Linked DNA regions of Homo sapiens: region 1 is reported to be linked to region 2. The links are microRNA targets in miRTarBase. Many come from high-throughput screens and were not tested one by one. Region 2 holds a microRNA gene; the other region holds the end of a gene's coding sequence.

Region 1 (3,000 bases), not on the chromosome of region 2:
GGCAGGCTCGTGCTGTCTGCACACTCAGCAGTGACAGCAGGGTGTGGCCAGGGCGACACAACCTTCAGGGGATTCTGGAAGCTCATACTCCTCCAGGAAAGAGGGGGCTCTAGGCAAACATGAAGGCCTGAGCCCCCAGCTCATCTGAGGAAAAGCAGGTGGTCTGGAAGCGCCGCTAGGGCAGAGGTGGGGAGCATGTGTAGACGCCTCCCGGCGGGAAGGGACCACCAGGGCCAGCTCGGGCCCCAGCGCTGCCGGTGTCATTCGGGGTTAAGGTCTGTCCAGCAGCAACGCGGGGCAGGGCTGGTGCCAAAAAGACCAGTTAAAGAATTGGAATTTGTGTCATGTTTAACTTGTTGGAGTTGTGAATAAAGAACACTGTGAGGTCGTAATGGGAGTGATATCTCAACGTTGTTTTGTTTTGCTTTCTTGTCAGATTGCAGAAAAGCTGAGGCAGGCCCTCAGCCGCTTTCCAGTGATGTAGGACAGAACGGGCCTTGAAGAGAATGCCGCGTGCTTTCTCCTGACTTGGGGCAATGCAATTCAAAACTTTTTTTCCCCTATTATTCAGAAAAAAAAGGAAACAAAACCAAAAAGAAAGAGTTGCAAAAAACTGCATTTATTTTATTAGCCACCCTAAATGCGTCAGTTATTTAGGGATGGTCTTTTGTTCATTTCCGCATCCATTATTTAAACCAGTGGAAATTGTCTCTATTTTTGGAAAGTACTTAAAAGTTACCAGAATTTTCAATGGAAAATGAGGGGTTTCTCCCCACTGATATTTTACATAGAGTCATAATTTATATGTCTTATAAATTATAAGTCTTATATAATTTATAAGTCTCCCACAATCTTCCAGTTCTTACCCAGTGTCAGATAATTAATTACTAATTACTTTCTTAAAAACATGAACTATGCCAGAATAAAAAATATCTATGTTTGTATATTTTTATAACTCCTTTCAGTCCTCTGGGGCTCCTGTCATTGAGGGAAGTCGTTACGCCTTTCACTGCCACAGTTACAGCTCAAGTGCTTACACTTCAAGAGGGAGGACGCTGGGGGCCCCTGGGGCTGCTAGTGCCATCGTGGTGTGTGGCAGGTGGGCCATCCCATGTCCCTCCAGGGGGACCCCACAGCCTGGCAGATGAGCAGATACCCCTGGCCACCCATGTCCTCAGCGACATTTCTGATGTGCTGCTCTTATGTGAGGACCAGTGCTTTCTCTCTTTGCACTTCCTTCCTAATCTTGGTTAAGGCATGTTTTATGCCATGAAGAATACATTAGAAGAATTGAGGGACTTTGTAGAGAATTTTGTGGCTTTGGTCCAACGGGTGAGTGGCTGTGCGGAGGCCTGTGTTCGGGAGGGCCTGGGAGAAGGAGGGCACCCAGCACCCCGGCGTCTCTGGCCCTTTCTTATTCTTTGGCTCCTCATCCACCGTGATGAGAAGCGCTGCTGTGGCCACGGCACACTGCTTGGCTTGGGTGGCGGGTTCATGGCCAGTTGGTGTCATCAGCAAAGAGAAAAAGCACAGGTTAGCTCCCCATTAGATGGAAAAGTGTAGGGACTGAGAAGGGCTGCAGCCTCAGCAGTGTACAGAGTCCCCGGCGCTCTGAGGTTGGAGAGAAAGAACAGACCAGCGCCCTTCCCGACTACATCCGAAACTTCACACAGGGTGTTTCTGAGCACCAGCACTTCCAGCGCTTCACTTAACGGCATAAAGCAAAACAGGACCTTGGCACACCGTCAGCTCGAACTCAACACTGGCAGCCACCGTCTCACCCCTGCGGAGGAGCGCTCCCGTCTCCCACAGGTGCCTTACCGCGTTCCCTCCCGCTGCTTTCATTTTTCTGACCTAATAATTACGGGAAATGGAAAGTCTGGGCCAGCATCAATAAAATGACACCAAAAATAAGTAGATGAAATCAAATGAATATGAGAACATCTTGTTCTTCAATATCACGGGTTTTTGTTAATGTTTCATAAGTAATTCTCCCCACTTGATTTTTCTTCTATAAAATCCCATAGAACAATGTTTATGCTATAGCCATTTAATATATGTACAAATTGTAAAGAATATGTATAAATGTTTTACACGAATGTAAGAGCATGTAGAAGCCAACATATAAATAAATTGTTTAAAAAAACTGTACAGTAAATTCTCAAAGCACTTTTTCAAAACACTTTTTGGACTTTGTGTGTGATTTTTGTTGTTGTTGTTAAGTACTTTTTATTCCAGCTGCTGAAAATGGTCCAGGTAATGAATTCTTCCCCAAATCCTATTTCTTCTGACATGAATTCATCATTTCAGTTCCGTAGGTCAGTGTTGCGGTCCGGGAAGCGTATCATAACCACCTGGGAGTTGCCAAGAAGCAGACAGTCTCCCAGTGTCTGACTCTCGGATATTTGGATTTGACTGGTGTGAGGCAAAGTGAAAAAGGGATGGGGGAAATGGAGATGGCACGGGCTCCTCAGAGCGTGGTAGCCGACTGTGAGGAAAAGCAGAGGGAATGTGAAAGAAAATAAGAGAATCCACGGGATTTGATGCCTGGAAGATTCTCCTTCAAGTGGCAACATGGCATATATATCCTTCTCCGGGGAGTCACATGCACCATTTGGTTCTTAGATACGTTGATGTTTTGATTTTTAATGATTTGTATCAACCTGTAGGTACCACAGAAGAGCTGTAGTCATACAATCACATAACTTTTACAAATATAGTGGAAAAAAAGTCAGTATTTGGAGAGGAGAGATGAAGGCGTGGTGGAAGAAAAGGTCAGTCTCGTTGTCAAGCAAGTGACGTCAGTTGCCTCCCACCAGGAGCAGCAGTCCCGGGATGTCAACCCACTGCATGGTTTGTAGGTGTTGGGGTCACCAAGAAAGATGACTCACAGAGGCACTGGGTGGAACAACGTAACTTGATTCATTTTCTTATTGGTGACTTTATTCACTTTCTTTCTTTTGTGGTAGCTTTATTCATTTTCTTATTCTGTCATTTTAA
Region 2 (3,528 bases):
GGCTAATTTTTGTATTTTTAGTAGAGACAGAGTTTCACCATGTTGGCCAGGCTGGTCTCGAACTCCTGACCTCAAGTGATACGCCTGCCTCGGCCTCCCAAAGTGCTGGGATTACAGGTGTAAGCCACTGCGCCCAGCCTGCCACTTTTAATAATTCTTGCATATGTTCCAGGAATACCTATGTGGATATATATGTATGTATGTGTGTATTTTTTTTAATGTGATATTTTTAAAATAGTGTCTTTTTTTTATTATTACTATTTTTTGCGACAGAGCCTTGCTCTGTCGCCCAGGCTGAAGTGCAGTGGCGCAGTCTCTGCTCACTGCAAGCTCTGCCTCCCTGGTTCAAACGATTTTCCTGCCTCAGCCTCCCGAGCAGCTGGGATTACAGGTGCCTACCACCAAGTGCGGCTAATTCTTATATTTCTAGTAGAGATGGGGTTTTGCCATGCTGGCCAGGTTGGTCTCACACTCCTGACCGCAGGTGATCTGCCTGCATTGGCCTCCCAAAATGTGATTACAGGCGTGAGCCACTGTGCCAGGCCAAAATAGGATCTTTATTTTCTAGAAATATGGGTAAGAATATTGATTTGTTTGCTTTTCAGTTCTATGTTGTACTAAAAATTTATTGATAAATGTATTCCTAAAGAGTAGAAAATTGAAATGCAGCCAGGCACGGTGGCTCACGCCTATAAACCCAGCACTTTGGGCGGCCAAGGCAGGCAGATCACGAAATCAGGAGTTCAAGACCAGCCTGGCCAACATGGTGAAACCTGGTCTCTACTAAACATACAAAAATTAGCCAGGCGCGGTAGTGGGCGCCTATAATCCCAGCTATTTAGGAGGCTGAGGCAGGAGAATTGCTTGACCCCTGGAGGCAGAGGTTACAGTGAGCTGAGATTGTGCCACTGTATTCCAGCCTGGGTGACAGAGACTTTGTTTTGGGGTTGGGGGCAGGGGTGGGAATTAAAATGCACCGTTCAGATCTTATATGCATCGCTGACAGGGAAACTTTTTTCAGGGTGAAGAAGGTGAATACAGTGAAGAGGAAAACTCCAAAGTGGAGCTGAAATCAGAAGCTAATGATGCTGTTAATTCTTCAACAAAAGAAGAGAAGGGAGAAGAAAAGCCTGACACCAAAAGCACTGTGACTGGAGAGAGGCAAAGTGGGGACGGACAGGTTAGTACATTCCACAGTCCTCCATTTTAGAGGCTGGAATAGAGATTCTTGAGGCTTGGAAGAGTAAGGATCCCTTTATCTGTCCTCTAGGAGAGCACAGAGCCTGTGGAGAACAAAGTGGGTAAAAAGGGCCCTAAGCATTTGGATGATGATGAAGATCGGAAGAATCCAGCATACATACCTCGGAAAGGGCTCTTCTTTGAGCATGATCTTCGAGGGCAAACTCAGGAGGAGGAAGTCAGGTAAAAGCCACTTGCTGCTGCTGCTGTCTAACATGTATTTTACACATGTAGGCCAGGTACTTCGATTTGCCTGTATTTCATTTATTACAGCATTTTAAGATAAGTATTATGATTATCCTTATCGTACAAATGAGGAAAGTAGGCTTAGAATATTTGGTAACTCTTGGTGAGGCAGCTAAGATACAGACCTAGGACAGTTTGTTTCCAGAACTCATCTTCTCTTAATTATTATACTTTTGCTTTTCTTAGTCTGAGGTGTAAGGCGTCTGAGAAGTGAAATACTTGCATAGGTTGCCTTTTAGGAGAAAGGAGATGTTTCAAAGGTACTGAATGGCATGAAATGAAGTCTTTTTCTCATTTCTGTGTCTGTTATATTTGAGCCCAGCAGGCCCTGAGGTTCTGTGATTCACGCTTGCTTTGGGGAGGCCTGTTTTTTATAATCTCTTTGGGATGATGAGGAGACTACGTAAAGTTCCTATTGTCCCCCTGCCTCCCTGACCCATTTTGTTCAAGAACATCTCTACTTGGAGAATTCTGCTGACCCAAGACACTTTTCCTTCATTTTATCCAGACCCAAGGGGCGTCAGCGAAAGCTATGGAAGGATGAGGGTCGCTGGGAGCATGACAAGTTCCGGGAAGATGAGCAGGCCCCAAAGTCCCGACAGGAGCTCATTGCTCTTTATGGTTATGACATTCGCTCAGCTCATAATCCTGATGACATCAAACCTCGAAGAATCCGGAAACCCCGGTGAGGACATTTTAGAACATAAGACCAGGCTGGGTATGGTGGCTTACGGTGGCTTACACCTGGAATCCCGGCACTTTGGGAGGCTGAGGCAGGAGGATTGCTTGAGGCCAGGAGTTCAAGACCAGCCTGGGGAACATAGTGAGACCCTGTCTCCAAAAAAAAAAAGAAAAAAAGGAAAAAAAAAATAGAGTGTAGACTCTTGATATCTTTTAGAAAGAATTCTCTTTGCTTTTCTTTTTATTTATTTATTTAAGACAGAGTCTCGCTGTGTTGCCTAGGCTGGAGTGCAATGGCATGTTCTCGGCTCACTGCAACCTCCACCTCTTGGGTTGAAGTGATTCTCCTGCTTCAGCCTCCTGAGTAGCCAGGATTACAGGCGCGTACTATCGCGATCGGCTAATTTTTGTATTTTTAGTAGAAATGAGGTTTCGCTATGTTGGCCAGGCTGGTCTTGAACTCCTGGCCTCAAGTGATCTGCCCGTCTCGATCTCCCAAAGTGCTGGGATTACAGGCCTGAGCCACCGCGCGTAGCCTCCTTTTGTTAATTTCCTAACAGTTTCTTCATTCCATTTTTTGTAGATATGGGAGTCCTCCACAAAGAGATCCAAACTGGAACGGTGAGCGGCTAAACAAGTCTCATCGCCACCAGGGTCTTGGGGGCACCCTACCACCAAGGACATTTATTAACAGGAATGCTGCAGGTACCGGCCGTATGTCTGCACCCAGGAATTATTCTCGATCTGGGGGCTTCAAGGAAGGTCGTGCTGGTTTTAGGCCTGTGGAAGCTGGTGGGCAGCATGGTGGCCGGTCTGGTGAGACTGTTAAGCATGAGATTAGTTACCGGTCACGGCGCCTAGAGCAGACTTCTGTGAGGGATCCATCTCCAGAAGCAGATGCTCCAGTGCTTGGCAGTCCTGAGAAGGAAGAGGCAGCCTCAGAGCCACCAGCTGCTGCTCCTGATGCTGCACCACCACCCCCTGATAGGCCCATTGAGAAGAAATCCTATTCCCGGGCAAGAAGAACTCGAACCAAAGTTGGAGATGCAGTCAAGCTTGCAGAGGAGGTGCCCCCTCCTCCTGAAGGACTGATTCCAGCACCTCCAGTCCCAGAAACCACCCCAACTCCACCTACTAAGACTGGGACCTGGGAAGCTCCGGTGGATTCTAGTACAAGTGGACTTGAGCAAGATGTGGCACAACTAAATATAGCAGAACAGAATTGGAGTCCGGGGCAGCCTTCTTTCCTGCAACCACGGGAACTTCGAGGTAGGTATCATAGGATTGGTGGCTAGCTTTTTCCCCTTTGCATCATCAGGTTTAGGGGCATGGGACTTCTGTCTCAGGAAGGTGGTGTCTGAC

What was found. Region 2 holds the annotated microRNA hsa-miR-6866-3p (GAUCCCUUUAUCUGUCCUCUAG, at 1,249-1,270, shown strand). A microRNA usually pairs through its seed, bases 2 to 8, with sites in the 3' UTR of a target mRNA and lowers its output. Matches are read on the target gene's strand: a 7mer-m8 pairs with bases 2 to 8, a 7mer-A1 pairs with bases 2 to 7 and ends in A, and an 8mer does both.
Region 1: the mRNA of SNX9 is a reported target of hsa-miR-6866-3p. Seed matches in the 3' UTR shown: 7mer-m8 at 2,437-2,443.

The regions. Positions count from the first base shown.
Region 1 is chr6:157,942,355-157,945,354 of GRCh38, forward strand. SNX9 (sorting nexin 9) reads left to right here. Exons shown (of 18, transcript NM_016224.5): 18 at 437-2,723. The coding sequence ends at 484. Among named protein-coding and RNA genes, the nearest start is that of SYNJ2, 38 kb to the right of the region's middle.
Region 2 is chr17:40,160,732-40,164,259 of GRCh38, forward strand. MIR6866 (microRNA 6866) reads left to right here and starts at 1,202; the gene lies at 1,202-1,270. It overlaps CASC3 (CASC3 exon junction complex subunit), which reads left to right. Exons shown (of 14, transcript NM_007359.5): 4 at 1,022-1,180; 5 at 1,271-1,422; 6 at 1,994-2,170; 7 at 2,750-3,435.